4 linked regions of the Homo sapiens genome follow. The protein of the gene in region 2 binds, or shares a complex with, the protein of the main gene of each other region. Each region holds a gene or a part of one and is shown on either strand. Other genes may lie near its edges. The genes, in order: KANSL1, PHF20, KANSL3 and OGT.

Region 1 (7,026 bases), on a different chromosome or scaffold from region 2:
CAGCTGAATGATTTGTTCTTGCTTTCTCCTTCTACTCGAGATAGAACCAGGACCTGAATCCAGGCCTACTTGTTTCTAGTCATTGCTGTTTTCACTATAACCAGGTCTCTCATATCCCTGTCCCTTTTTTTTTTCCTGGCTTCATTTTCAGATTTGGGAGAACGATGGGGGAAAATAAAAGGAAAAAATAAAATCTATGTTTTTTGGAGTTCCATTACATATATATACAAAACATACACAGCCTTTGCCAAGTGGGAGTAACTCTTCTGCTGACAAAGGGGTATTGTGGGATGGGCAGAAGTGACCTCGTCTCCTTTCTTGAGCCTCTTTTATACATTCCAGCTCAGCCCAGCTTTCAGATTGTTTTACAGGGCCGAATGCTTCTAGACAATGCTTTATTTCCTAGGATTTGGTATAGCTGAGTTTTTAAGTGTGGAAAAGAGTGATTATGAAAAATGTTTGAGAAGACAGCACTGTCCTCAGAGACTGTGTTTTTACACTTGGACAGGTAGCAAATGTTTGTTTTCATTAAAACTTTAATAGTTTTCCTAATTTGTTTCACTGTCATAAAGCCCAGCAATCATGGAGCTGAGGGTGCTTACCCACTGGGAAAAATCATCCCTGAGAATGTTAGCTTTTTTTTTTTTTTTTTTTCCCCAACTCAGATTTTTATTCCAGTCCTGGAAGGCCTAACATTCAGTCCTCGAAGGCATAACATTCAGTGTCATGAAATTCATCATCTATACCATAGGCAGGAGTGGCTAAATTTCTTTTACTCTGCAGAACTGGCTTGGAAAATATTTTGTACTGTCTATTTCTTGGGAGTAATTTGAGAAATAATTGACTTTACTACAGAATCCTCTCCATCCTCTGGATCAGTGAGTAGCCTCAAGGTATATTGTCTAAGAGTATGGGCTTTAGGGTTGTATAATCTTGAGTTTGAAAGTTGGTTGTTACTCATTAAACTATGTAACCTTGGACATAGTTAATGTACCTTTCTGCACCTGTTCCCTATCTTTAAAATAAGCATAATTGTGTTTGCCTCATGGAACTGTTACAAAGATTAAGTGGCACACGCATGATGATAAACACACAGTGCCTGGCAGATAATAATGGGTTCAGTAATGTTAATTTAGACGTCTCTTCCCTGCCTTCTTATCCTCAGTTCAGATTGAGCATATCCTCTGTGCTCTATGGGACCCAAAACCCCATAAGCTTTTAGAAAATATATTAAACAGGCCGGGTGCAGTGGCTCACGCCTGTAATCCCAGCACTTTGGGAGGCCGAGGCAGGTGGATCACGAGGTCGAGATCGAGACCATCCTGGCTAACACAGTGAAACCCCGTCTCTACTGAAAATACAGAAAACTAGCCGGGCGAGGTGGCGGGTGCCTGTAGTCCCACCTACTCAGGAGGCTGAGGCAGGAGAATGGCATGAACCTGGGAAGCGGAGCTTGCAGTGAGCCGAGATGGTACCACTGCACTCCAGCCTGGGCGACAGCAAGACTCCGTCTCAAAAAAAAAAAAATATACACACACACACACACACACACACACACACACAAAATAAATTTCTAATAGTTCTAGAAGACATGCTATCAGTGACTGGAATTTGTAATTATTTTTGAAAGATGGATAAAGACAAGATAACTGTGAAGAAATAAATAGAAAGATAGCCCAAAGCACATGCCAGGAGTAAGTTGCTGTGAGGTGGGAACTGATTACAGGAGGTTTTTGACCCAGAATTAAAGGGCAGAAGGAGTAGTGATAGGACCTGGGCATTTGTCTGGGTGATAAATTTGGACTCATTTTGGAATAGCTAGGTTAGATTTTCCTTTCCTGTCCTCTCACCCCACCAGAGCCTTCTTCCTTGAAGTAGTGGTGTTTCATTCTATTCTGAAGCAGTGGATAGGGACTCTGGCGGGAACTTCTGAGCATGCCCCAAGTGGTTACCGATTCCCAGGAGGAACTGGGAGGTGAGGAAAAATGTGCTGGCTTTTAGATTTGAATATCCCTGGAAAGCTTTGCAGAAGCTTGAAAACAGACTCACACCGCTATCCATGGTGGTGAAATGTCAGAATATTGAAAACATGAAAAGGAAAATCTAAAAGTTGTACATCAGCACCAGAGGTTCCAGTCAGAGTAATAGGCAAGAAGTAAAAAAGGAATACAGATTGGAAAGAAAAGGTAAAACAGTCTCCATTTGTAGATGATGTACTTATGTCTATAGAAAATCCTACTGAATAAACAAGAAAAAGTCTATAACGAAGTAGTTTCACAGGCTACAAGGTCATTATATAGCAGTTTATTGTACTTCTATATACTAGTAATGAAGAACTGAAGTTGAAATTTTAAAAGGTACTATCTTTAATCATTTCCATCTGAGACTTTTGTCAGCCTGGCCTTCACTGCCCGTATTTCTATCAGTATTTTGGTCAAAACCATTTAACAAATCTCTAAGAAGTTCCAGACTTTCCCTCATCTTCCTGTCTTCTTCTGAACCCTGCAAACTCTTCCAACTTCTGCCCATCAGAAAACATTAATTCTTAGGAATAAACTTAACAAATTGTATTTAAGACCGGTATGTCAACAATAACTAAACGCTGTCAAGAGAAAATCAAGACAAACGTAAATAGATGGAGAGAGAGATACCACGTCAGTCGATTGAAAGATTCAGTATTGGTGGTGGAACACATGGAAGTTGTCCCCAAATTGATCTGTAGAGTCAGTGTAATACCACAAGTTTGTTGTTGTTTTTTGCAGAAGCTTAAAAGGCAAAAACCAGACCACCTACAAGTAAGAAAGAATCCGATTCCCTCTTAAATATAGCACTGGATATTAGAATACACGGAAGAATTGAATAGCTTTAAATGTTTGAGAGGAAAATGGTTTAAATCTAGAAATTCCTTTTCTAAAGGAATTGCTCAAGGATATATTCTTGGGAAAAATCTAAGAAAATGGAAAGATAAGAAACAGCATAAAAAATTCAGTCCAAAAGATGTTGATTTGTGATATTGAACATTAACCAGTCAGCTAAAAATCCCCGATAATCTCATGATGGGAATTGGCGGAGCCACAGAGGAAGGAAAGAGAGAATGGTATGTAGTTCTTATTTGGAGAGAGTATGTAGTACTCAGTACAGTGCCTGATAACATAGATAATGAATATTGTTGAATAATTGCATCCTGATTAACTTTATATTGATAGAAAAGAAGTAGGCTTAAATATGTTTTTAAATCTCTAGAATAGAAACAGGATGTTTTCAAACCAGTAAATTCAACAAACAAGGATACAAGAACAAAAACTCCATCAACCAAACCAAAAAGGTGTCTTGTTTTGTTTCCCTTTGGGACTTGAAAGTAAAAAGCTAAAGTGACCTGCTTGCAAATAGAAGAATGACCTTCAGTAATGTTCACGTAAACAGATCTTCCATATGACAGCACTTGCCCTGCCAAGTGTCAGGCCACTGGGCAAATTAAAGGAGGATGGAGTGTAGGTCTTGAACACTAGAGAGGCCAGGTGTTTGGACTAACCTGTAGCATTTTATGTTTCTTGCAGATGTTCCCACAAGCCTGCATTTCCAGAGCATGCTGAAATCTCAGTGGCAGAACAAGCCTTTTGACAAAATCAAACCTCCCAAAAAGTTATCGCTTAAGCACAGAGCACCCATGCCGGGCAGTCTGCCAGATTCAGCTCGTAAGGACAGGCACAAATTGGTCAGCTCCTTCCTAACAACAGCCAGTAAGTGTCAGGGAGCCGGGAAGTCCCCCAGAGTATCAGTGACTTTTCATTCCTTTTATATTCTCAAATTTGTAGTTTGCATGCATGTTGGGGTTGGGAGAGGCAGTTGACCGATAAAAAATTCAGCTCACAGTGACTGCTTCTGCTTGTCTTGGATGCTCTCAGATGGACTTCGGGAGCTATTCTAGACACCATGGATCTTGGAGCAAGACCCAAAATGCTCAGTGAACAGCCAGCAATGGCATGGCATTGAGTTCATCTACGGGCAGGTGTCTTCTGTATCCTGGTGACATGTTTCTCTGGTTCTGGGCTCCCTGTGCCTATCCTAGCCATTGTGCAAATTACTAGAAACTTCAGTCCTGAAGGACTGTCCTGCTGCCCTGGGTATACGGCGTTGGCCTAGAGAGAACTCGAGAGCTTGGAACTCGAATAAGAAAATATTTGAGAGGACATATTTCACAGCTCTTTTTCTGTTCCCCTCTTCAGAGCTGTCCCATCACCAAACCCGGCCTGACAGGACCCACAGGCAGCACTTAGACGATGTGGGGGCCGTGCCCATGGTGGAGCGAGTGACAGCGCCAAAAGCAGAGCGCTTGCTCAACCCACCACCACCCGTGCATGACCCAAACCACAGCAAAATGAGATTGCGAGACCATTCATCTGAGAGAAGTGAAGGTAGGGCCAGGCCCATGGCACCTCTACCTGCAACTGCACCTGCTCAGGGCTTTCTGGGGCAGCCTAGGCTTCTCTTAATTACCCCCAGCTTTGTCCTTCACTTTCTAGGAAAGCAGAGTAGAGGGACGCTACTGCTTCTAAATGGAGGTCACTTCTTAACTGCTACAGCAACCTCTGCCCTGCCCCTACTTCCCACAGCTAGTGTGCTTCACCTTTTTATCCTCTAGGCATAGAAAACATTTTTGCCTTTAGTATGTATTGCTGCCATTCCAAGCTTGTGTTAGAAGTAACGCTGGTTAAGATAGCCATGTATTTCTCTCTTTTCTGTTGACTTCTGCAGTGTTGAAGCATCACACAGACATGAGCAGTTCGAGCTACTTGGCAGCCACCCACCATCCTCCACACAGTCCCTTGGTGCGACAGCTCTCCACCTCCTCAGATTCCCCTGCACCCGCCAGCTCTAGCTCACAGGTTACAGCCAGCACATCGGTAAGTACCTGTGTGGGGTTGGCCGGACACCCCCTCTGCAGGTCACAGCTCACTCAAGTGGCTCCAGAGGACAGTGTGAGGGTGGGTTATAAAGCCCAGGGCATTTATAGGATCTCAGCTCATCATGACATATGTATGTATGTCTGTACCATTTTTAAGTCAAAGTCATGGTACTTGACCTTCTGTTGTTTTTCTTGAGTTGTTTTTCATAGCAGAGATGGATTTATGCTGAGCCATCCATAGAAAGCTTGATGCAGGGACAAACTCTTAAGGTGATCTGTGACTATTCAAGATCTGTTGGACTAAGTTTCACACAGGACTCAACAGTTCCGTGGCCCTAATCCTGTTGGCCCAAGAAGTGAACAAGAGAGGAGGGGTGGGTAGAGGGGAGATTCCCATGGGCGTTGGAAGCAGTGTTTGATTTCCTTGGTTTTACTCTCTGGGTGAGTGGAGGTGAAGTACTAAGAATAAACACTAGGCGTGAGGGTACCAGAAGAGAAGGGAAGGGAGAAGGCAGAGTCCATGCTTTTTAGGTATACAGAGCAGAATTACAGATCCAGCAGGCCCCCATGGCAGGACATTTGGCATGCACACACCAGATTTTACGATACCACACTCCATCTGGAAGCAGTTTGCACAGCTATTCCAGACACATTTCCTTTAATTTCATTCTAATATTTTAATTCCTCAAGTGTGCCCTCTTGGAACATACATACCTGTAGCTGCTATGGACCTACTCAAAGGGTCCTTTTTGTATAATAATTACAATGTAATGTAATGGTAAATGTAAAAGTCTGCAACTGTAATGTTTATTGAACACTTACTACATACCAGTGATCAGTGATTTACATGTGTTACATGTTATAATGCCTTTTGAGATGTAGGTTGGTACTGTGGATTTCATTTTATATGCATGAAAACTGTCAAGGCAACTTGTGAGGGTTATAATTATGATTCAAACTCAGGCAGCCTGACTGTAGAGCCAGCTCTTTTACCATTACACTACACAGGCTAAGCCTGGGTGAGGGTATTGCAGAGGCAACTTAGGAAGTTCCTTCAGAGCCTAGATCAGGAAACTTCCAAGCTCATAAAATGGACTCACTAGGCTCCTGTGATCAGGTAGGAATTCACATTGTTCTCTCTTTGCTGTTACAAATCAATCTTTTCCAAATGGTCTCTTTGCTCTTCGACTTTCTTTACCCCCGTAACCCACAAATTTTATCTAAATAGGTGTGTAGTGTCCCTCACATACTCAGTTATCCAGCAGCAAAGGGTTTCAGATAACCAAAGTATTTATAAAAAAGAGTCTAAACTAATTCTGATAGAAAATCTGAACTCAGAGATTCAGGACTTGGTGAGCACTTCAATATTTCTGTGTCTGGAGAATGTTAACTTAGGCCTGGATCACTTGAAATTTTTACCATTTATTGAGTAAAAATTTTGTGTATAGCACTATGCTAACCCCTGAGGCTCTCTCATTGCCAAGTTTTTTCAAAGACTCTGGATTTATGTAAAAGAAGATAGGCCAGGCACAGTGGCGCTCACCTATAATCCCAGCACTTGGGGAGGCGGCTGAGGCGGGTGGATCACTTGAGGTCAGGAGTTCGAGACCATCCTGGCCAATAAGGTGAAACCCTATCCCTACTAAAAATACAAAAATTAACTGGGCGTGGTGGCATGTGCCTATAGTTCCAGCTACTCTGAGGCAGGAGAATCACTTGAACTGGGAAGCGGAGGTTCCAGTGAGCGGAGATCAAGCCATTGCACTCAAGCCTGGGCGTCGCAGCAAGACTTCGTCTCAAAAAAAAAAAAAGAAAGAAGATAGGCCAGATAACAGCAGGCTCTCAGTATCTGCAGTATCTGCAGTGGGGATTGGTTCCAGGACCTCCCATAGATAGCAAAAGCTATTGTTGCTCATGTCCCTAATATAAAATGGCATAGTATTTGCATATAACCTATGTGTATGCTTTAAATCCCATATACTTTAAATCATCTCCAGATTACTGATAATACCTAATGCAATGTAAATGCTATAAAAATAGTATGCTGTATTGTTTAGAGAATAATGAAAAGAAAAATCTGTACCTTTTCAGTACAGACACAATTTTTTTCCCCCAAATAT
Region 2 (7,026 bases):
CCGAGCTGGAGTGCAATAGCGCAATCTCGGCTCACTTCAACCTCCGCCTCCCAGGTTCCAGCACCTCTCCTGCTTCAGCCTCCCAAGTAGCTGAGATTACAGGCGTCCGCCACCACGCCCAGCTAATTTTTGTACTTTTAGTAGAGACGGGGTTTCACCCTGTTGGCCAGGCTGGTCTCGAACTCCTGACCTCAGGTGATCCACCTGCCTCGGCCTCCCAAAGTGCTGGGATTACAGACGTGAGCCACTGCACCCAGCTGATAGTGCACATATTTCTAAATGGTAACAGCAATGTTTGCAAATAACGGTTTCCAGTGCTCCAACATAGGGTTAATTCACCTTGACCCAGGAATTGGGAATGGAGCCCCTCAACATGGCTTTAAATTAGGGAAGCACAATGAGGTTATAAGAACTTGGGGAGTCTTCTCTGCTTCCCTAAGAACAAAAGTCACAATGAATGAAAGGAGATTACTTCCTTTACCAAAAATTTAAACAATAATCCCAATAATGGCCAGTTGGCAAAATTAGGGCAATTCAGTTTCTGCTTACATCGTTGAACAAGACATGAAATTGACTACCTTAAAAGTTACAGCTTCCACAGATGTGATTAAAACTCAAATGTATTTTCAGAAAAGAAAAATCAGTAATCTAATAATACAACAATCATCACGCCTCACAGGTGTGGCTACAGAAAGCCATCCTGTTTCTTCCCTTTTCAGACTGCATGACAGAACTCTTACAATGCAGCTGTCTGAACGTGCATGCCATGCACGCCTGTGCATTTCTTCCCACGCCAGAAACACCAACGTTAGCAGTGAGAAACAGCCTCTTGTAGAGGAATCGTCGTTTTGTTATAGATGTTATAGCCACGTGTATTCTCTCTGATGGACAGCTATAGCAGATCAGCTTATACTTGTCCTATAATTCATTATATATCAAATGGTGAGCAAATCACTAGACAGAACATTCCCTGAAATAGATTTTAGTACAGAGGCCTGAATTCATGTCCACAATGACCTGTGCTTAACTATTCCAAAGGTCGCTAAAGATACTGTTACTACTATTGAGATATTATTGGCTACTTCACGTTTACATAGTAAATGTTTGCAGCATATAACATTACAGACTCATAAACCCATAATTAACTTATAAGTGTTAATGGACAACTGTGCTTTGATTTTTGCCTTTAGTGATAAGAAAACAAAGTAGTGAAATGGGTCACTCCTCAAAGCATGGAACATTTTAACTTTGCCTAGTAAGGAAAAACAAAACAAAATATAGCAATTACATGTGGAACCGTAACCTGCAAAAGTAACACAAATATTGTCTCAAAAGGTACAAATAGGTTGTACCTGGACCTTAAGCAGCATGATCACCTTGCTCTCACAAAATAATACAAACAGGAAATGTAAAATGTTAAAGTATAGTAACAAAACAATTCTGAAAACGCTGACTACTAAACACCCTTCAGGAAGGAGAAAAGTCGCACATGTAGAATTTGAAGTTTGTTTACAACAATATAAAATAAGGTAATTCCCCAAACCACATTCTTTGTAACAAATCTTTACAGTGAAAGAGTTTGAAATTTTGGGAAACATTTTTGGACATTAAATAGAACGGGGAAGCTGTCAATATTAAGAAGTGGGTAGAAAATGCTGTCCTTTGGGTTCCAGACCCTGCCTGCTTCGGTTTGGAATTCCTCCTAGATTCTTATTACTGTGAGTGAGATTCTAGTTCTTCCATAGGCTGTATGGGCTCTGCTACAAAAGCCATAACCCAGCCAGCTCTGGGGTGAAGGCATACAAACTTGTCCCCAGTACCATGAAGTCATGCAAGAGATGTGGTGAGAAAAGTGAAGAGTCCTAAGGAGAAAGCAGGGCAGCCAAGACTCTGCTCTTTCCCAACCTCCACAGCATGGTGAGCTCACAATATTCCTATGAAGCTAGAAAAGGAAAATGATGCCTGCTGCCCAAACACCATGCCAGGAAGAAACCAGGGAGTTGGCATGTGCCCCAACGTGATAGAAAAGTCAATTAAATAAACTCCAAATTGAATTTACAACTGTCTCCAACTAAACTTTTTTGGCTCTCATTCCGTTTATCATCAGTGGCACAATTTCAAGTGAAGTTTGTGCAAAAAGACTCTCTTCATTCAACGATGTGCACAGAAGAGGGGAATCCCAAGAGTCTATTTGCTACCTTTATGGCAGGCTTCGAGATCAGAGTGTCCTCCCGCAGCCAAAATGGCCTCTTTGTCCAATGTCCACCACACTCCTGGCCCAGATCCCTGAAGTCAGTCGGTGTCACGTGCATTCAGCATGCTAGGTTTATTTATTTAAATATGCGAAGCTCCTCCTGCAGGTGCCCCAGGATTGTGCCCCCATGAGTTTTGGGTGCCCAGTTTCATGTTGAGCAGCAGAGGGCGATCTGCTGCACCTTGCCCAGGTCCATCAGCAGCTGCTTGATACAATGCTTGAGCTGCGGAAGCCTGGCCAGCGGCTCAGGGGGCTCCAGTTCCCCAGTGTAGTCCAGCCAGCTCTCCAACACTGTCGGCAGAAGAGAGAGATGAGACCTAGTGAACTCCCAACACTTGATTTGCAAGAACATCAGCAAGCATTTCAGCACCTTATTCCATCAGACATGGGGCAAGGGAGGAAGGGCCATTTCAGCCTCCATGGGGCAAGGGAGGAAGGGCCATTTCAGCCAGCACTGTGTCAACACCTGCTCTACAAAGTGGTACTCCCAGGACAAAACACAAATGCTTTAGAGCAGCACAGTCCAAAAGAACTTTCTGCGATGATCAATGGTCCAAGTCTGTGTCATCCAATACAGTAGCCACTAGCCTTATGCAGCTATTGAGCGCTGGAAACATGGCTAATGCAACTGAGGAACTGAATTTTAAATTTTATTCAGTTTTGGTTAAACAGCCACACATTGCCAGAGGCTACTGTTACCAGAGTCTAGAAGTCTTGGAAGGAAGCACCTTTCTGAGTGTTACCACTCACTCTTTAAAAAGCTTTCCCAGCCGGGCGCGGTGGCACATGCCTATAATCCCAGCACTTTGGGAGGTCGAGGCGGGCAGATCACAAGGTCAAGAGATCAAGACCATCCTGGCCAACATGGTGAAACCCCATCTCCACTAAAAATACAAAAATTAGCCAGGCATGGTGGTGCCCGTCTGTAGTCCCAGCTACTCAGGAAGCTGAGGCAGGAGAATTGCTTGAACCCGGGAGGCGGAGGTCGCAGTGAGCCGAGATCGTGCCACTGCACTCCAGCCTGGCGACAAAGCGAGACTCCATCTCAAAAAATAAAATAAATAAAATAATAAAATAAAATAAAATAAAATAAATAAAATAAAATAAAATAAAATAAAATAAAAAATAAAAAGCTTTCCCATGTTGAAAATCAGAGAGCCTGGTGTTTTAGCATCCTGTCAAGAAAAATGAAAATCTATAGGGTCTTGAAAAGGTCTATTTGTATATCATAAACTCTGATTTGCTTCATATTAATTCCTGATTGATACGCAATCATCAGTGGCACAGAATACTCTGTTATTATTTTCTCCCTTTATTTATTTACTTATTTATTTATTTTTTTGAGATGGAGTCTCACTGTGTCGCCCAGGCTGGAGTGCAGTGGCGCCATCTCAGCTCACTGTAATCTCTGCCTCCTAGGTTCAAGCGATTCTCCTGCCTCAGCCTCCAAAGTAGCTGGGATTACAGGCATGTGCCACCACGCCCGGCGAATTTTTGTATTTTGGTCTCAAACTCCTGACCTCAGGTGATCCACCCACCTCGGCCTCCCAAACTGCTAGGATTACAGGCATGAGCCACTGGGCCTGGCCTTTTTTTTTCTTTTGAGACAGAGTTTCGCTCTTGTTGCCTGGGCTGGAGTACAATGGCAATGATCTCGACTCACTGCAACCTCCGCCTCCCGGGTACAGGCGATTCTCCTGCCTCAGCCTCCTGAGGAGATGGTATTACAGGCACACACCACCACGCCTGGCTAATTTTTGTTATTTTTAGTAGAGATGGGGTTTCATCATGTTGGCCAGGCTGGCCTCGAACTCCTGACCTCAGGTGATCCACCTGCCTTGGCCACTTTGAAAGTGCTAGGATTACAGGCATGAACCACCATGCAGGACCCCTTTAAATATTTAATGTAAGATTTCAGGTATTAATTAACATTATCATCATTGGTTCAATATCTAGAAAGCTGTCTTGCTTGTGAGAACAAGTATTTCTCTACAGAAAGATGTTTGTTCTTCCCTAAGCTACCCCCTAAAGCTCTGGCATTTGGGGAGAGACCATCTGGGAACCCTGCACCTTTGACAAGAACCACCCCCTGCAGGTAGCCCCTGTGCTATCCCAGCCTGCCTGTAGCCTTTCTAGTCCATGCACCAACCTGTACTGAGCACCTTCTGGACCCTGGAGTGCAGCAAAAGAAAGGCCCACCCAGTACCTCTTCATCAAGCAGCCTGCAACCTACTGCGCAATCCTCTCCTGTCCTCAGATGCAGCCCTACCTTCCTCTCCACCTTTCTAAATCCTCTGTTTCTTGTGAGCTATTCTTTAGGGAAGCCTTCCCCAACCCTATACCCTGAATCTGGTCCTTGTGTTACAGGTGCTATGATATCACATGTTCTCCTTTGAGCATTTACTATGGTTTGTCATTACAGGTAATGGGATGATTTGTTTAATATATGTCTCTCCCACTAGATCAAGTTCCACGAGGGCAAAGGCTGAGTCTGCCTTGCTTGCCACTATATCCCTAACACTCACCTGTGTCTGAAATGTGGCAAGCCTGCAACAAACACAGCGAGAGAAGGAATGTGTGGTCCAGCAAAGCGCCCTACCCATTGCTCTGGGCCCTATGTAGTTTATCCTCCTCCATCATATTTCTTGTTGGTATTTGGGGGTTCCAAGAAGGAGGAACCCTCTCTCTTCCTAATTCCAGCAAGTACAAGGACTTGGAAATAAGAAAAATAAGACCACCTCCTCAGACTTAAGCTTGAAAACCATTAGTAAAAGATCAGTCATGTGAGAGGAACTAGTGGCCTGCTGAGCAAGAAAACTGGATAGTGACCAGTTTCAAAACACCAGTAAGTCTTTAAAAAAAACTAGAAGGAGACAGGGGACTGTTCAGCAAACAGGCAGAAGAATAAATGGAGAGGCCGGACGTGCACGCCTGTAATCCCAACACCTTGGGAGGTCAAGGGAGGTGGATCACCTGAGGTCAGAAATTCAAGACAAGCCTGGCCAACATGGTGAAACCCCATCTCTATTAAAAATACAAAATCAGCCAGGTGTGGTGGCAGGCATCTGCCTGCTACTTGGGAGGCTGAGGAAGGAAGAGTCGCTTAAACCTGGGAGGCAGAGGCTTCAGTAAGCCGAGATCATGCCACTGTACTCCAGCCTGGGCGAGAAAGAGCAAGACTCCGTCTTAAAAAAATAAAATAAAATAAAAATAAATAAATGGACAAAAGGCAGTCAGGACTGGATGGGTCACTCCAACAGCAAAGAGAGTCAGTCAATCTTTTGCAAGATGATCCTACAGTTGCTGAGAGGCCCCTCTTAAGGTCACCCTAACTACCTTGGATCTAGTTCCAGGCTCACCAAAGACATCCCGATACTACGGTGGCCCAGGAGGCATGCACAGTGTGAAAGCGCACCAACGCTCAGACTGGAAGAGTCTAAGCCACTCAGTAGTGCCTGAGCTTGGTTAACAGGAGTGTGTGGAGTTCCTGAGATGGAAGCTGTCTGTCTAGGTCTGTTAGGCTGAAGAACAAAGCCAGGACTGTGGGAAGTCAACAGCATCTCCTCTGGACCCCAGCATCCAGCAGGCCACCCTCTCCATACCATGTGCTGCACCATCCCAAGTGTCTCTTTTAAAGATGCAGAACAGCTTCCAACTAGCATAGTGGTTGCTAGCAAGACAGAAGGTTACAGAGGAAAAAATTCTGTTCAAATACACTAAGATCATGTGTATAGAGACCACTGCTCACCAAGGCAACATTTTTTATTTAAGAAAATAATCTCTCTAATGCCAAAAGACTTTTTTACTTTTCATGGTCATTAAATATCCTTTGTCTTTTAGTTTTAAAGTACTGTTCAGGCTGGGTGCAGTGGCTCACACCTGTAATCCCAGCACTTTGGGAGCCCGAGGCAGGCAGATCATGAGGTCAGGAGATCGAGACCAGCCTGGCCAACATAGTGAAACCCCGTCTCTATTAAAAATACAAAAATTAGCCAGGCATGGCGGTGTGCACCTATAATCCCAGCTACTCGGGAGGCTGAAGCAGGAGAATTGCTTGAAGCCAGGAGGTGGAGGTTGTGGTGAGCCGAGATCGTGCCACTGCACTCCAGCCTGGGCAACAGACCGAGACTCCGTCTCAAAAATAAATAAATAAATAAATAAATAAAGTACTATTCATATAACTACATAAATAATTAAATAATGGCCAATTGTAAAACAATGGCATATATATATATATATTTCATATAATAGCTTACTAGGCTTTTTTTTTTTTTTTTTTAAAGAAATGGGGTCTTGCTCTGTCACCCAGGCTGGAGTACAGTGACACGATCATAGCTCACTGTAACCTTGAACTCCTTGGCCTCCCAAAGCACTGGGATTACAAGTGTGAGCCACCACGCCAGGTCAGCTTTTAAATTTTTTTAAATTTTTTATTTTCAGACTGAGTCTCACTCTGTTGCCCAGTCTGGAGTGCAGTGATATGATCTCAGCTCACTGCAACCTCCGCCTCCTAGATTCTGCTGCTTCAGCCTCCCAAGTAGCTAGGATTATACGTGTGCACCACCACACCCAGCTAAGCAGGCCGGCTTTTTAAAAAAGGAATGTTACATCCAAATTCCTATTTTAAAACTTGGTTATGAAAGCTTAGTTTAGGGCTGGGTACGGTGGCTCACGTCTATAATCCCAGCACTTTGGGAGGCCAAGGTGGGCGGATCATGAGGTCAGGAGATCGAGACCATCCTGGCTAACACAGTGAAACCCTGTCTCTACTA
Region 3 (7,026 bases), on a different chromosome or scaffold from region 2:
GTAGCATCATGGGAAACTTTCCCTTTCTAAATTAATTATTTCTATAATGTTTGAATTATTTAAAATAAGCATAATCATTTTTATAATTGAAAAAATAAGAAATAAGATAAAATTAAAACATTTCCATCCCTCTGCAAAAAAAGGTAGCTATGATCCCAACGAATGTCAGGTGTTGACCTCTGTGCAGTATTTTCCCTAAAGAGGAAGAGACAGAAGAGCTTTTAGAATGGCTCAGGAACTATCACTGCACCTCCAGTTCACAAGCAGGTTGACATGGTGGAAAGGACAGGGAGACACAGGAAGGCCTTGGCTGTATAGCGGATACTGAAGGAAAGCACACTCAGTACTAGACTCAAACTGTTTTTTGGCTTAACTTCTAATCTTTGAGTGGCTCCTCAGATTACCATTTTAAGATTAGAAATATTTGACTTGAAAAGGTCACAGGGGAAATTAGATCAGCTAAGAGAAACTAATCATGACTTCCTGGGTGAGACCTATAAAAACCTAGCTGTGCCCTAAAAAGACAGCAATAAATGCTAAGATATGGGAAGGCACAGTGCTAGAAAGCCAATGTCAAAGAAAGAGTATTATACTTGGGGGCCGAGGCGGGAGGACCACTTAAACCTTGGAGTTCAAGGCCAGCTTGGGCAACATAGTGAGATATCTCTGTCTCCATGTCCTTAAAAACAAAGAAAGGGCCAGGAGCGGTGGCTCACACCTGTAATCCCAGCACTTTCAGAGGCCGAGACAAGTAGATCACTTGAGGTCAGGAGTACGAGGCCAGCCTGGTCAACACAGTGAAACCCTGTTGTAGCCGGGCATGGTGGCGGGCGCCTGTAATCCCAGTTACTTGGGAGGCTGAGGCAGGAGAATTGCTTGAACCGGGGAGGTGGAGGTTGCAGGGAGCCGAGATCACACCCCTGCACTCCAGCTTGGGCGATAGAGCAAGACTCCATCTCAAAAAATAAAAATAAAAACAAAGAAAGAGCATTAGCCAAGTAGCCTCTACTCATAACCTCTGAAGGATGAAACCAAGGATGAGAAAAAAATGAAACGAAAGGAAAAGTAAACAAAAACATTAAATACTAGACACTGCTACCCACTTGAACATATGTACTCTTCACAATATCAAGGGAGGGATGTAGAAGAGGAAGCTCAAAGATGTCCATGATTCGCTCAATATTATAAAGCCACAAACTCCAGAATACAGATTTGAATTTGAATCTGAATCTCGTCTGTCCAGTGCATGGGCAGCCCCTTCAATCAGCCAGTCAGCTGGTCTTAAACTTCCCAATAATGAAGCCCATGTCCTCAGTCCTTCCTGGCAGACTCACCTGTGAGCTGGAGGGCAGCACCTGGGAAGAGGACTCCTCGGATGGGGCTGCTCCTGAGCCCATAGGGCTCAGTGTAGTGATCCTGCTCGGCTGGCCACGAAGTGTCAGAGTAATGGTGGTGGGGACCTTCAAGCCTGAGATAAAGAGAGAGAAGCAGAATTTTTGAGTCACACTCTCCACCTTCTACTGAGGCTTTCCTTTCCTGGAGAGCTTCTCCCCCACATAACACAGTCCCTTGGCCTCCTCCCCAGCTGGGTCATCTATGCCCTATCAGTCAATCTGAAAGGCAACAGGAAACAGCCTGTGTTCTCTCAACCTCTCTGGGGGATGGGTCCACACAGCTGAATCCAAAGGTCAATGCCAGGACCCTGTGGGACTGGTTTCAACATCATACCTTGCCCACATGAGATGGGAAGGTCCTGGGGGAAAGATCCCAGATCTGGGAGTCCCCACAGTTCTCATGAGAGACTCACCTGATGCTTGGTTAGAGATCTGAGCCAGGCCAGGGAGGCTGCTTGCCAACTTAGCGAGGCCCCCATTGGTCAGCAGCTGGTGGATGGCTGTGGGCTTCCCACCAGGAGTGGCACCCAAGGAGGAGAGAGTGGTGGCCACAGGAATGGTACGGACAATGGTGCTGGTGCCCGTGGTGATGGCACCCAGGCTCTGCATGGGGGTGGGCAACTTCACACTGGTGGCCTGTGGGACACACAAGCCCAGGTGATCAGAAGCTGTCGCCCAACAGCAACATTCGAGCTTGGAGGGCCCACAGCATATTATTAAAGGCTAACATGTATTGAGTGCCTACTACATGCAAGGTACTCTTCCAGGCATTTTGCATATATTATTTCATTCTTATAACAACTCTATGAGGGAGGTACTATTATTACCTCATTTTATAGACAAAGAAACAAAAACAGAGTGGTCAAGAAACTTGCCCAAGGTCACACAGTAAATGATAGACCTTAACTTTTGTAAGTTCCCTGCTATGTAGCTAGAAGGCTGTTTGTCCTTGATCCACTGACTCCAGACCTAGTTTCCCTGCCAAAACCAACTAAGCTGAGGAGGCCTCCTCCCTACACCTGCCCAGCCCAGCAGATGGCAGATGTGCACCTGTGGGGCTGGTCCTGGGGAGGGATTTGCTGGAAGGCCAGAGGTCTTGCTGCTGATATCCTGCAAGCTGAAGCTGAGGCCTTGGAGGAGGCTGCTGGCTGATGTGGCCCCTAAGAGAGGACATAGCAGGAATCAGTAGAGACTCAATCACTTGCACTATCCCGAGAGCAGCCACATCCATCCACCCTCACCACCAACTAAAACACCAGTGGTGCTTGCCCTTGGACACCCGTCCTCAGAGAGAAGGCAGGAAGCTCTCCCCAACTAGGCACACACGCAATGGATGCCACACAGGAAAGGTACTGTGCCAGACACTGCCCCGGACTTGCTCTGCACCTGCTGCAAACCATCAGTCATACATTTTAGACCATTTTGAGAAATCCAAGTTTGTTCCTTTCTTTCCAGGGAAGAACTTTTTAAGCCAAAAGAATTATAAATATCCAACTTTCACTTCGCCTCACACAATCAAAGCAGTAAGGAAGTAGCCTCAAAGCAATAAGAAAGGTTCTCTTAAAGGAAAAGGGTTTATTTTATTTTATTTTTTTTTGAGACGGAGTTTCGCTCTCGTTGCCCAGGCTGGAGCGCAATGGCACAATCTCAGCTCACTGCAACCTCCACCTCCTGGGTTCAAGCGATTCTCCTGCCTCAGCCTACCAAGCAGCTGGGATTACAGGTGCCCACCACCACACCCGGCTAATTTTTTGTATTTTTAGTAGAAACGGGGTTTCACCATATTGGCCAGGCTGGTCTCAAACTCCTGACCTCAGGTGATCCACCCACCTCGGCCTCCCAAAGTGTTGGGATTACAGGTGTGAGTCACCATGCCTGGCCAGGAGAGGGTTTCTGCAATGCCTTGGCCCTGCTGGGCTCAGGCAACAGGCCTTTCAAAGTAGGGTTAGTGGGTAGGACAAAGAGAGAGACAAGCACAGACAGAAAAATGTCTCATTTTGCTAATGCCCAGTGTAGCACCATTTCCAGTTTTATTCAGGCAGATGTGCTTAAAACAGCAAAGTAAAACCACAGTCAGCTCTCAATTATCTGTGAGCTTCACAGCAGATTTGCAGATTCAAACAACCACGGATAGAAACCTGTGGATATAGAATTCCAACGGTATGACATAATTTCATATAAGGGACTTGAGCATCCATGGATTTTGGTAGTGGTGAGGGTCCTAGAACCAATCTCCTGTGGATAAGAAAGGCTGACTATACATATATGTCCTATCGGCTATTTCTCCTTACAGTAGAGGATACAGCACCTGTAGACTGGAACATTTACTCACTTGCAGACCAGGACATTTACTCACTGCATTTATTCAAGGCCAAGGAATCCCTCTGCCCAAGCTAATTCCAGCTTCACGTCAAGCCTCTATGATCACTCTAAGACCCAGAGGCCCATCCTATGGATTTAGCTCCAGGGATGCTTTCCCAGGACCACCCAGAAGCAGCAGACCAAAAATTCTGTGTTGGAAGGGGAGAATGCTGGGCCACAAGATACCTGGGAGGGAGCTGCCAGGAGATGTGGCCACCAGGCGGCTCTGCAGTGTGTGCAAGGCACTGGGTGCAGTGCTGCTGGAGACCACTGAAGGGACTGGGCTGGCTGAGACTCCACCTTCAGAAGAACTGGACCTGGAGACAAAGGAAGGAGCTCTGTTATCCAAAGGTCACAGGACAGCAAGCCCTAGCAACACTGGCAGGGTACAGAGTGGGGCCCAGCAAGGCTTTCAGCAGCAGACATACACCAAAAACCTTCAGCTTCTTTGTCCCACTTTCTGTACCTGGCCTCTAGTCTTCTAAAAGTCCTTACTTACAGGACTTATAGCAAAAGCCAGGGGACGATTTGGAGTCTTAAGTAAAAGTGAACTCTGGGTTGACTCAAAAGCAAGACAAAGATCCCAATCAGAAGTAAGTCACATTTCCAAAACTGACAAGAATCCAGAATCCATCATTTTCCAAAGCACTAAATAAACCAGAAACAGAGGGAAGGGAAAAAAGGAATAGACACAGATGGTCCAATAAACACTCACTTGGCTGTGGTGAGAAGTCCTGTGAGCTCCTTGGCCCCTGCTGAAGCCTGCCCCAGTGTCATGGTGATGGGCTTCCCACCTGCAGCTTCAAAACAGAAAACCCCAAGGCCCCTGGTCAGTCCTATTTGGCCTCTATGTTTCCAGGTTCCACAGCTTAGGCTAAATGCAAGATATTACGGACGAAAACTGGAAAATGAAAAAAGATGAACTATGCTAGAGTAGGGAGAGTTGGGGTTATTTTTTCCTTCTATTTTCTAAACTTCCTGAAATATTCTGTACCTTTAATTGAAGCCAACAAAAAAAGAACAAAATATAGGATGCTTTGAACGATGGCACAGCTTCCTCTCATATTCTGCCTGCCTGGTCCTCATTCAGATGGACTCATGCCAACTTTACCCACATGTACAGACTCATGTCTTCTTTGCTCCGGGCATCTCTCAAAATAAAGCAAAGGCTGACATGCTGGTGAATGGCCACCAAAGGGCAATGCTGTGTACCTGAGAGAGCTCAGTTCTCATTTAACGTACCAAGAGAAACTCACCTTCTGGAGCACTTCCTTGGGAAGGAGCACAAGGCCCTCCAGCTGTGTCCCCTTGGGAGATAAGGGACACCTTGATCTTCGGTCGTTTGGAGGTCTTACTGCCAGGAAGGGGACTCGAGGGATGGTGTCGCTTCAGCTGAACCCTAAGATCCTCTTTCTCTCCTTCCTCTGGTGGTTCTGATGAAATGGGAACTAAGACATGGAGCTGAGTTGAGATCCTCCACAATCCAAAAAATCCCAACAGACACTCAGTCAATACCAGCACCAACACAGCCATGTGTAGAATGTAGAACACACAGGATAACCACTCTACGTACAGGGCCACCCCTCAAAGGAGACTGCCCATGCTTCAGGACCACTTCACTCAGGCCCTGTCCGTGGGGGACCCCACTTTGCCCTTCTTAGAGGATGGCACCCTTCTCATCCCTCATCCTGCACTGGAATCGGAAGAGAAGGGGCCCTGAGTTGGTAGGAATTAAAAGACAGAAGACATCCTGACCCTGCCTAGCCAAGGCCAATGGCAACAACAACAAAAATAGAGGATTCAACAGAATGAGTAAACAGTCCTTCTCAGACTCAAAAAATGTGATCATCTTCCTGTCTGAAGCCCTCCCCACATCATCACACAGTTGGAGACATCAAACATTCTATGAGAACTCATGGAGGAGCAGGTCATCCAGTCCTCTCTAAAAAGTAGAGTTTTCCAAAGGCTCTCAAGAGTCCCACCCTGCCCTAAGAGCCCACAGTTGAGGATCCACTTGCCAAATGGAGGCAATGAAGAGGAGTGTCACCAGGACTAAAAGCTGGCTATGAGTAGCTACTAGGAGAGAGAGTACCTCAACCAGGCAACCTCACGGCTCCCACCCAAAAGTAACAGGGCAACACTGGCCCATGTCACAACCTAGTCCCCAGGTCATGTGTACTAGTACAGACAAAGGCCATCTGTTCACACATGGGCTTCCACTTCCACTGAATCAAACAGGCTCATCATGTATACAGCCAAGCTTTTTGGACTCTTAGGTTATCTTTCAAGCTTCCTCAAAGATTCCCTCCTCTTTAAACCCAGAAGTCCACCCTAGTCCTCTTGTAGCACAGGGAAGCAAAGACTGGTGTGGGGAGGAAGGTAGCAGTCACATGAGGAGGGAGGAGGGGTCCTGGCATGAGGCAACAGTCAGGACATAACCAGCTAGAAGGATTGCTTAGGGGACAAATGCACTGGCTAAAATCAGAGTAGGAAGGAGGGTGTAGGGGAAAGGAGTTTCAGGTTCTATGCTGATATGTGGCTGGTAGGCTTGTAGCCACCAGATAAACACAGGACAGGAGGCAGGGAGAAAAACACACAAGGAAACTGAGACTCAGGCAATGCCACAGACATACAAAAAAGCAGCAGAGCCAAGACCGTAGTGAAAGAAAGAACCACACTAAGAGACAAAAAAGAAAACACCATGAGAAGCAAACAAAAGAATGGAAAAAGGGCAAAGACTACAGAGTAAGCAAAAGGGGTCAGCAAAACAAAAGAATACAAAGAAAGAGAGAGAAAAGAACAGGAGGAAACCAAACTGAGGCAGATGAGAGGCAGAGATGGAAAATAAATAAGGGGTTGAGGAGCAGAATGTAGTGGACGAGCAGGCAAGAAAGAGTAATACTCACCAAAGAGACAGGAGGAGGTGCCAGGAGGAAGAGCTTTCCTCACCAGCATATTTTGTTTCAGAAAAGCAGCAAACTGTGCTGGAATGAATCAGAAAGAATTACAGAATCACAGCCAGCCAGAGAAGGGAGAAAAAGAGAGGGAATAAGAAAAAAGGTTGTAGAAAATGGCCAATAGGGGCTCCTTCTGAAATTACTGCATGGCAACCTGACTCTGCCACGGAGTCAGTCTGTAGAAGCATCTAAAACTGAATAGTACTATCTGCCTCATGGGGCCATGCCAAAACTCAACAAACTACAGCAATGCGAGTGCCATGAAGAAGGCATGGCACACAGCAAGGACTCCATATATGTTCGCTATTAGTATT
Region 4 (7,026 bases), on a different chromosome or scaffold from region 2:
TGTATAGTATCATCCATCAGGTGAACCAAAAAGTCTGCCAACAAAGTACAGGCTGCCACACAACAATCTTACGGTCAGCCATACTGGGTCAGTTCCATCATCTCCCTGACTCAATACTGTCCTTCAAGCAATGACTGATGTTCTAGAGAGTAAGGTTGTCTCCCATCACTTCAAGCACAAAAGGCTAATACTAATCCTCAAAACATCAAAGGTACCATTAATCTTATTTGACTTCTCCTCTAATTAGCCTGAGCACTTTTTAACACTATACTCTCAGAAGTAATGAATTATATAATCTTGCTATCTACTTTGTATGGTTATGTTTTTTTCTAAACTGAAAGGGTTACCCCTGTTTTGGCAGACCATGACTGCATAATCCAATCCATGCATACAAGCTCCTTCTACTACTTGATAATTGTGGTTATACATGTTTGGACTTTTACCAATTCCTATGCCTTTTCTAAGTCATAATAATCAGAAGTCTTGCAATAATTCTCCAACAATGACTGTAATGGCCATACATAGTAGCCAGCTGTTGCGTAATTTTATTACCCTCTAGTTTCTATGAACTCTTGGATGGATGCCACTTAAGTCCTGACAGCATATCTATATTTTGTTATCATCTAGATCCATTACAGTATACTATATCAAGTTAACACAATGCTCATAGTTAAAAATACATTATCTTCAAGATTACTATAAGATAATCAATAAGGCAGTTTTAGGAAAAGCTAAAACATCATATTAAATGTAACGGTGAAATCCAATTCTCCTGTTTGGGGATCCAAACCTATGTGCATGAACAGCTAATTTCTAGAAAACGCACGGGCACCACCATTCTCCCAAAAGTTCAAAACCCAAGACATCACTTCTGCTTCATCTGTCAAATCAAAATGTTTTTGACAATTATATTTCTCAAAACTAGCCCATTTTATCCATCCCAGGTTAATACATTTCAGGCAAACTGTTACTCAATTCAATAACATGCCTGGAACTATAGGGAAAAGATATAGAATCCTTATCATCAAGGGGCTTACAATCTATGTGAAAAGACAAGGCACACACTAAATGCCCACTCAGTAGTAAAGAATTTTAAGAGAACTAGATGATGAGCTCATAAGAGAAGTTTAAGCTGGGCCTTGAAGGATGAGTAGGGTTTTAATAGACAAAGGAGGAGGGCACTGTATACAAGGGAAAATCGTGAGAATAAAAGGAGATAGAAATGAGCAAGATTTTCCTGTAGAACTATTTCTCCTAAGATTGCATCAGTTTCCTGCCTTTCCTCCTAGAGCCTCCCACCCCCACCAGCCACAACATCTAGACACGTACATACATATGAAGTAAAATCAGGTCGATAAAAACCTACAGTAATTCTCAATTGCCTCTCAAATTAAATTCAAACTCCTCAGCCTCTCTATTCTTTATAAATCTTCCAATTGACTCTCCTCTACTACATTCACTTCTTGTTACTACTTGACTCACCACTTCAGCCAAGGAAGTCTACTTGCTATTTACCTTCCTACAGAATGCTTAGGTCATAAGCACCCACTCGAGGAAATCTTCTGATTAATACTCTCCAACAATTATCATCCAAGGAACTTACACCATTTTTTCCTTTACGGGTCAGGTCCTGTCTTATATTATAACCCGCAACTTCCCCCACAACACATCTCCCCATTTCCTAACAAAGCATTGTATGCACAATAAGCACTCACATATTTAAATGTGACATTTGCACAGCAACCTTAACAAAAAGCAGAACAGAGAAGAATCGAAATATACAACAGAAAGCAGAACAGAGAAGAATCGAAATATATGGTTTTCTACAGTGCAGCTGTATAAGAGAGGCTCAGCAGTAACAAGTAACAAATAACATGACAGGAACACACATGATGGCCAGGATGCCAGCAGCTCTCCATTCTGTGCATCCACAATCAAAGCACAAGCAACAATTCAACAACCTATAGATTCAGAAACAGACCTGTTTAAAACAACTCAGGGTTATAGCCGTTACAGAAAGGACAATTTTATACATAATTTGCAAAAGGAATTGCCAGGTATAGGCAACTCTAGTGAGTCACCATGTCAAAGAACATGTGCTGTCACTGCAAGGTGCTATCTGCAATAACACCTTCAAATACAACAGACTGCCAGGCACAGTGGTTCACGCCTGTAATCCCAGCACTTTGGGAGGCTGAAGCAGGCGGATCTGTTGAGGCCAGGAGTTCAAGACAAGCCTGGCCAACATGGTGAAAGCCTGTTTTTGTAAAAATACAAAAAATTAGCCAGGCATGGTGGTGGGCACCTGTGATCCCAGCTACTTCGGAGGCTGAGGCAGAAGAATCGTTTGAACCCAGGAGGCAGAGGTTGCAGTGAGCCGAGATCGCGCCACTGCACTCCAGCCTGGGTGACAAGGGCAAAACTCCGTCTCCAAAAAAAAAAAAAAAATGACAGACTAAAATCTTACCAAAATTATGAAAACACCCAACATTATAATTATAGAAGATAATTCAGAATGAAAAAAATGAGATAGCTGTCTCAAAGATAATTTCTATAATCAAGTCACAGAGAACAACTTCTAAATTGACATATCTATTAACTTAAAAAGATAAACACTGTTGAAAACAGTTACCAAGGTTACCAAAGATACCACCTTAACATTCTACTCTTTCACTGCTGCAAAACCAAAATAACCTGAGTTTCTTTAACCATTTTTCATAGAATGCCAACTACATCTATGATTCAGGTACACAATGTACTAATGATGCATTTAAGCACTGTCAACAAGAACATAAGGAACAGACGCAAGGTTCTACCAGTACTGAACTGACAACGGGCATTTGACAGTAAGTTTAAATCTAGTTAAGACTTTAGATATCCTGAAATAAATTAAAATATGATCACTATGGCATGTTTAGTTGAAATCAAGGGAACTTGCACAATCCCATTTTCATTCTTATTGGTAAAAACAGTAATAAATAAGTAAAGCAGCACCTTCCACTAGAAGAAACATAGAACCAGATGACAACACATGGCCATTCAATGCATTCAAGAGGTAATCCCATGATTTATTTTAGTACTATCTCACTTCCTTGGTAGGGTACAACAATAAGCTTCCTGCTAACAGCAGGTTAGATATTAAATAGCAAGGTTCCATCTCTCACTTTAGTTTTCCTTCTCAGCATAGTCCTACTGCTTGGGTACACTATCAGTAGCAATGACTGCTCTGCTACACACATAGGCAACTGGAAACCTGAGCCAAGGGCATTAGAGTTAAAGATGGCAAGAACCACAGCTGTGTAAGAGGGTACACTATCAATAAGAGTAGAATCAACCTGATTAATAAAGGTAAAGAACTTACTGTGACAACTGGGTACAGAGGTGAGCCCTGAGCCCTGGGAAAAATGGGGTCCAAGGCCCAGTGGCAGTACATACCAGGCTCCCTAAAACTTTATGTGGGTAACTAGCTAGATTAGTATTGCAATAAAACTTACAAAAAGTCACTCAAATGTACATATATATACACTGAGTGTCTCAGAAAAGATAGACAAGAAATTAGTTTCATTTGCTACCTCCAAGAGTGCTAACTGGAGGTATTCACTGTATCCATTCAAAAACCAATAAATTTAGAAGCTGGGTGTGGTGGCACACACCTATAGTCCCAGCTACTCTGGAGGCTGAGGCAGGAGGACTGCTTGAGCCCAGGAGTATGAGTACAGCCTGGGCAACATAGCAAGACTCCATCTCTTAAAAAAAAATGTTTTTTAAAGCAATGGATTTTCTAAAAAGGACACGTTTAAACTCTCAAAATTAACTACAAAAATTGTTAATAGATATCATCATGAGAAGTGACTTCGGATCTTTGAACAAACTACTAAATTTAGTTTCAGTTTCCTAACCAAAAAATAAGGGACAGCAAAATATGATCAATGGTTTTTTAACTGTGCTCAAGGGCTGCTTTGATGGGTGAGTGCCCTCTGGGCACATCATCCCACTTTTATTTCTTTTCACTTCAACATTTGCTTTGAGGATATTCAGACTCAGGTTTTAATATCTATTAATACTTCATTACTAGCTTTGTCCCCATGAAAGCCACATAACCCTGAGTCCATGGTTTTTTTTTAATTGATAAAAATCAGAAATAATATCATCTATTTTGAAGAATTATTGTGAGGATTAACTAAGACCAATCATTTAAAGCTGTCAGTAGAGTGTCTGACCACACAGACTTTCAGTAAACGGTAGCTAAAATAAACTATTAGCCATTTCCAGGTTGGTTACAAAACTGAATGTTGACAATGTAACTTGGGAACTTTTTCTAGATTTCTATAACCCCACTATCATTTACCTCTTAAGTTTACATCTACTTTCTCTAACTACATCATAAGTTCTGAGGGAAAGTCTTATGTTTTTGTATCTTTCGGAGATCCTAAACACAGTATGAATTTAAGGTCTGCCAGCTGAGCCTTACTTGTTCCCAGAACACATCTGCAACTTAGACAAAAAAAATTTTTAAACTAATCAAAAGCCCAGTATAAGTAGTATCATCTAAATTCTATGACTTCTAATTACATTGAAAGAGAAGAGAATAGGATATTGAGGAAGAAATTTTGTAGCCTAATTTTCACATCATTCCATATAGTGGCATCTTGTTTCAAACTATTTTATATTACAGATTTTACAGATTAAGACCCATTATCCACCATTCCTTGAAAATCAATTAACTTGCAAACACTTATCAGAATTTATCCAAAGTTAATCACAACAGAAAAAAGTCATGTGCTCTGTACTTTATACGTGTTATTTTAAAATTGATGTAGTTTCTTGCAATAAGAATTTTTATGCTTTTTAATATAACTTGCTAAATAAAACAAATATTTTAGCATAACGCAGACCAGCTAAAAGCAATTTCACCATTTTAAGTACATACGCATTTCTAAACTTTTGACTTTATTCCATGTGAAAACCTACTTTAGTGTCTGAAATATCACACTATGTTTCTTTCTGGGTTTCTAGGAAGGGAAAGTAACCATTAAAATTTTACTCACAGGATTGTACTGAAGAGCAGAGACGTAAGCTTGTACTGCCCCTTCCATGTCACCCGCTGCTACCAAGGCGGCTGCCAGGTTAATATAACCATCGATGAAATCAGGTTTGAGACGCAATGCATGTCGATAATGCTCAATTGCCTCCTGCAACTGCCCTCTTTCCTTGTACACATTCCCCAAATTCGAATAAGCTTCTGCCAGAAGGGGGTTCTGTTTAATTGCCAGAGTGCTAAAGTGAGCAGATCTGGAAAAGGCGACAAGTGTTAATGCATGGGTATGCACGTTACAGAAAAGAAGGTATGGCCCATATGCAACTCAAACAGTTTGAGATCTGTGCTATTGCTCATTATATAATACCTTATCTTTTAACTAGTGCATAGCAAGAAAAATTTGGGAAATCAAAGATTTTCAAAAGTGGAGGTATTCTAGATTTCAAAATGAAAAGCTTTTTCTTATTAAATAAAATTATTGGCTGGGCGCAGTGGCTCACGCCTGTAATCCCAGCACTTTGGGAGGCTGAGGCGGGAGGATCACCTGAGGTCAGGTGTTCGAGACCAGCCTGGCCAATATGGTGAAACCCCGTCTCCACTAAAAATACAAAAATTTAGCCACGCATGATGGCAGGCGCCTGTAATCTCAACTACTCAGGAGGCTGAGGCAGGAGAATCGCTTGAACCCGGGAGGCGGAGGTTGCAGTGAGCTGAGATTGCGCCACTGCACTCCAGCCTGGGTGACAAGAGCAAAACTCCACCTCAAAAAAAAGAAAAAAATTCTAACTAGAGTCTTGTTACAAAACTACCACATTGGCCGGGCGCGGTGGCTGATGTCTGTAATCCCAGCACTTTGGGAAGCCAATGCGAGCAGATCACCTGAGGTCGGGAGTTTGAGACCAGCCTGACCAACATGGAGAAACCCCGTTTCTACTAAAAATACAAAAATTAGCTGGGCGTGGTGGCACATGCCTGTAATCCCAGCTACTCAGGAGGCTGAGGCAGAAGAATCGCTTGAACCCAGGAGGCAGAGTTGCAGTGAGCCGAGATGGCGCCGCTGCACTCCAGCCTAGGCAACAAGAGCGAAACTCCGTCTCAAAAAAAAAAAAAAAAAAAAAAACCCACCACATTGGAAATCATGATCATTAAGATAAAAAATGGAAAGCTATGTGCACGAGTCTCATTTTCCATTTAAGATTTAATGATGCACATCTTTAAGTGTCTAAATATGCCAGAATAACAATTATTAAAAGGACAGGAACACAAATTCTTCCCTTTTGATTAATTCAACTGATTAACTAAAAGCAACACACCATAACAACTTAATGAAACTCCAGGTATGCATCTCCTGCCACAGCATACATAACCATCATTTCTGAGCATTTCAGTCCCTCAAACTGACAGGTCTCATGAAAGGGAGACTGGATGCTCAGATATACATTGATAATAATTTATTACCTGAACAGAGTCTAGAAAGCAGCAGACCCAGATAGAAAAATCTAGAAAAGGTCCCTAGTCATACTGATAATATAACCACCACCACAAAAGGAAGGAGAAAAACTGGCAGCTGGGCATGTCACAAGTGGGCAAGAGAGCAGATGTGCGTTGGCGGCTCAGTTGAAACCCGGTACTGGAAAAATTTCAAGTTCAAATATTTAAGTATCATTTTTCAAGCTCAGCACCCAGAGGCAGCAATCACGAGCAGGTACCCCAACATCTCCTACCTGTCCAGCCTTCGACACTGGAAGTGTATAGATGAAAGTAATAAAAGCACACCAGTATTGTCTGGCTCTTGTCTCCAGAGCTGCATGCAGTGTCTCTCAGCTGCCTCAAAATCTCCTGCCTGATATTCTCGATGTGCCAACTCAGCTAACCCTTGGAAGGAAAGCATACGTTTCGTTGGTTCTGGAGAATCATCAAAACATTTGAGGGAAGGAGGGGGGAAAACAAAAAGTTAGAAATGTAAACCAAAAAAATGTAAAAATATG

The links.
Region 1: PHF20 (region 2) and KANSL1 share a complex: the UniProt entries of both Homo sapiens proteins name them as parts of the NSL complex.
Region 3: PHF20 (region 2) and KANSL3 share a complex: the UniProt entries of both Homo sapiens proteins name them as parts of the NSL complex.
Region 4: PHF20 (region 2) and OGT share a complex: the UniProt entries of both Homo sapiens proteins name them as parts of the NSL complex.

What each region holds. Positions count from the first base shown.
Region 1 is NC_000017.11:46,036,416-46,043,441, reverse strand, and holds part of KANSL1 (KAT8 regulatory NSL complex subunit 1), read left to right. Parts: intron 1-3,557; coding exon 3,558-3,740; intron 3,741-4,226; coding exon 4,227-4,415; intron 4,416-4,755; coding exon 4,756-4,904; intron 4,905-7,026. UniProt on the Homo sapiens protein: Non-catalytic component of the NSL histone acetyltransferase complex, a multiprotein complex that mediates histone H4 acetylation at 'Lys-5'- and 'Lys-8' (H4K5ac and H4K8ac) at transcription start sites and promotes transcription initiation.
Region 2 is NC_000020.11:35,943,004-35,950,029, reverse strand, and holds part of PHF20 (PHD finger protein 20), read right to left. Parts: intron 2,546-7,026; coding exon 2,403-2,545; 3' UTR 1-2,402. UniProt on the Homo sapiens protein: Methyllysine-binding protein, component of the MOF histone acetyltransferase protein complex.
Region 3 is NC_000002.12:96,600,309-96,607,334, forward strand, and holds part of KANSL3 (KAT8 regulatory NSL complex subunit 3), read right to left. Parts: intron 6,740-7,026; coding exon of another isoform or gene 6,662-6,739; intron 5,230-6,661; coding exon of another isoform or gene 5,204-5,229; coding exon 5,012-5,203; intron 4,556-5,011; coding exon 4,471-4,555; intron 4,073-4,470; coding exon 3,942-4,072; intron 2,555-3,941; coding exon 2,445-2,554; intron 2,031-2,444; coding exon 1,808-2,030; intron 1,469-1,807; coding exon 1,335-1,468; intron 196-1,334; coding exon of another isoform or gene 166-195; exon of another isoform or gene 1-165. UniProt on the Homo sapiens protein: Non-catalytic component of the NSL histone acetyltransferase complex, a multiprotein complex that mediates histone H4 acetylation at 'Lys-5'- and 'Lys-8' (H4K5ac and H4K8ac) at transcription start sites and promotes transcription initiation.
Region 4 is NC_000023.11:71,536,095-71,543,120, reverse strand, and holds part of OGT (UDP-N-acetylglucosamine--peptide N-acetylglucosaminyltransferase 110 kDa subunit), read right to left. Parts: intron 6,944-7,026; coding exon 6,763-6,943; intron 5,293-6,762; coding exon 5,049-5,292; intron 1-5,048. UniProt on the Homo sapiens protein: Catalyzes the transfer of a single N-acetylglucosamine from UDP-GlcNAc to a serine or threonine residue in cytoplasmic and nuclear proteins resulting in their modification with a beta-linked N-acetylglucosamine (O-GlcNAc).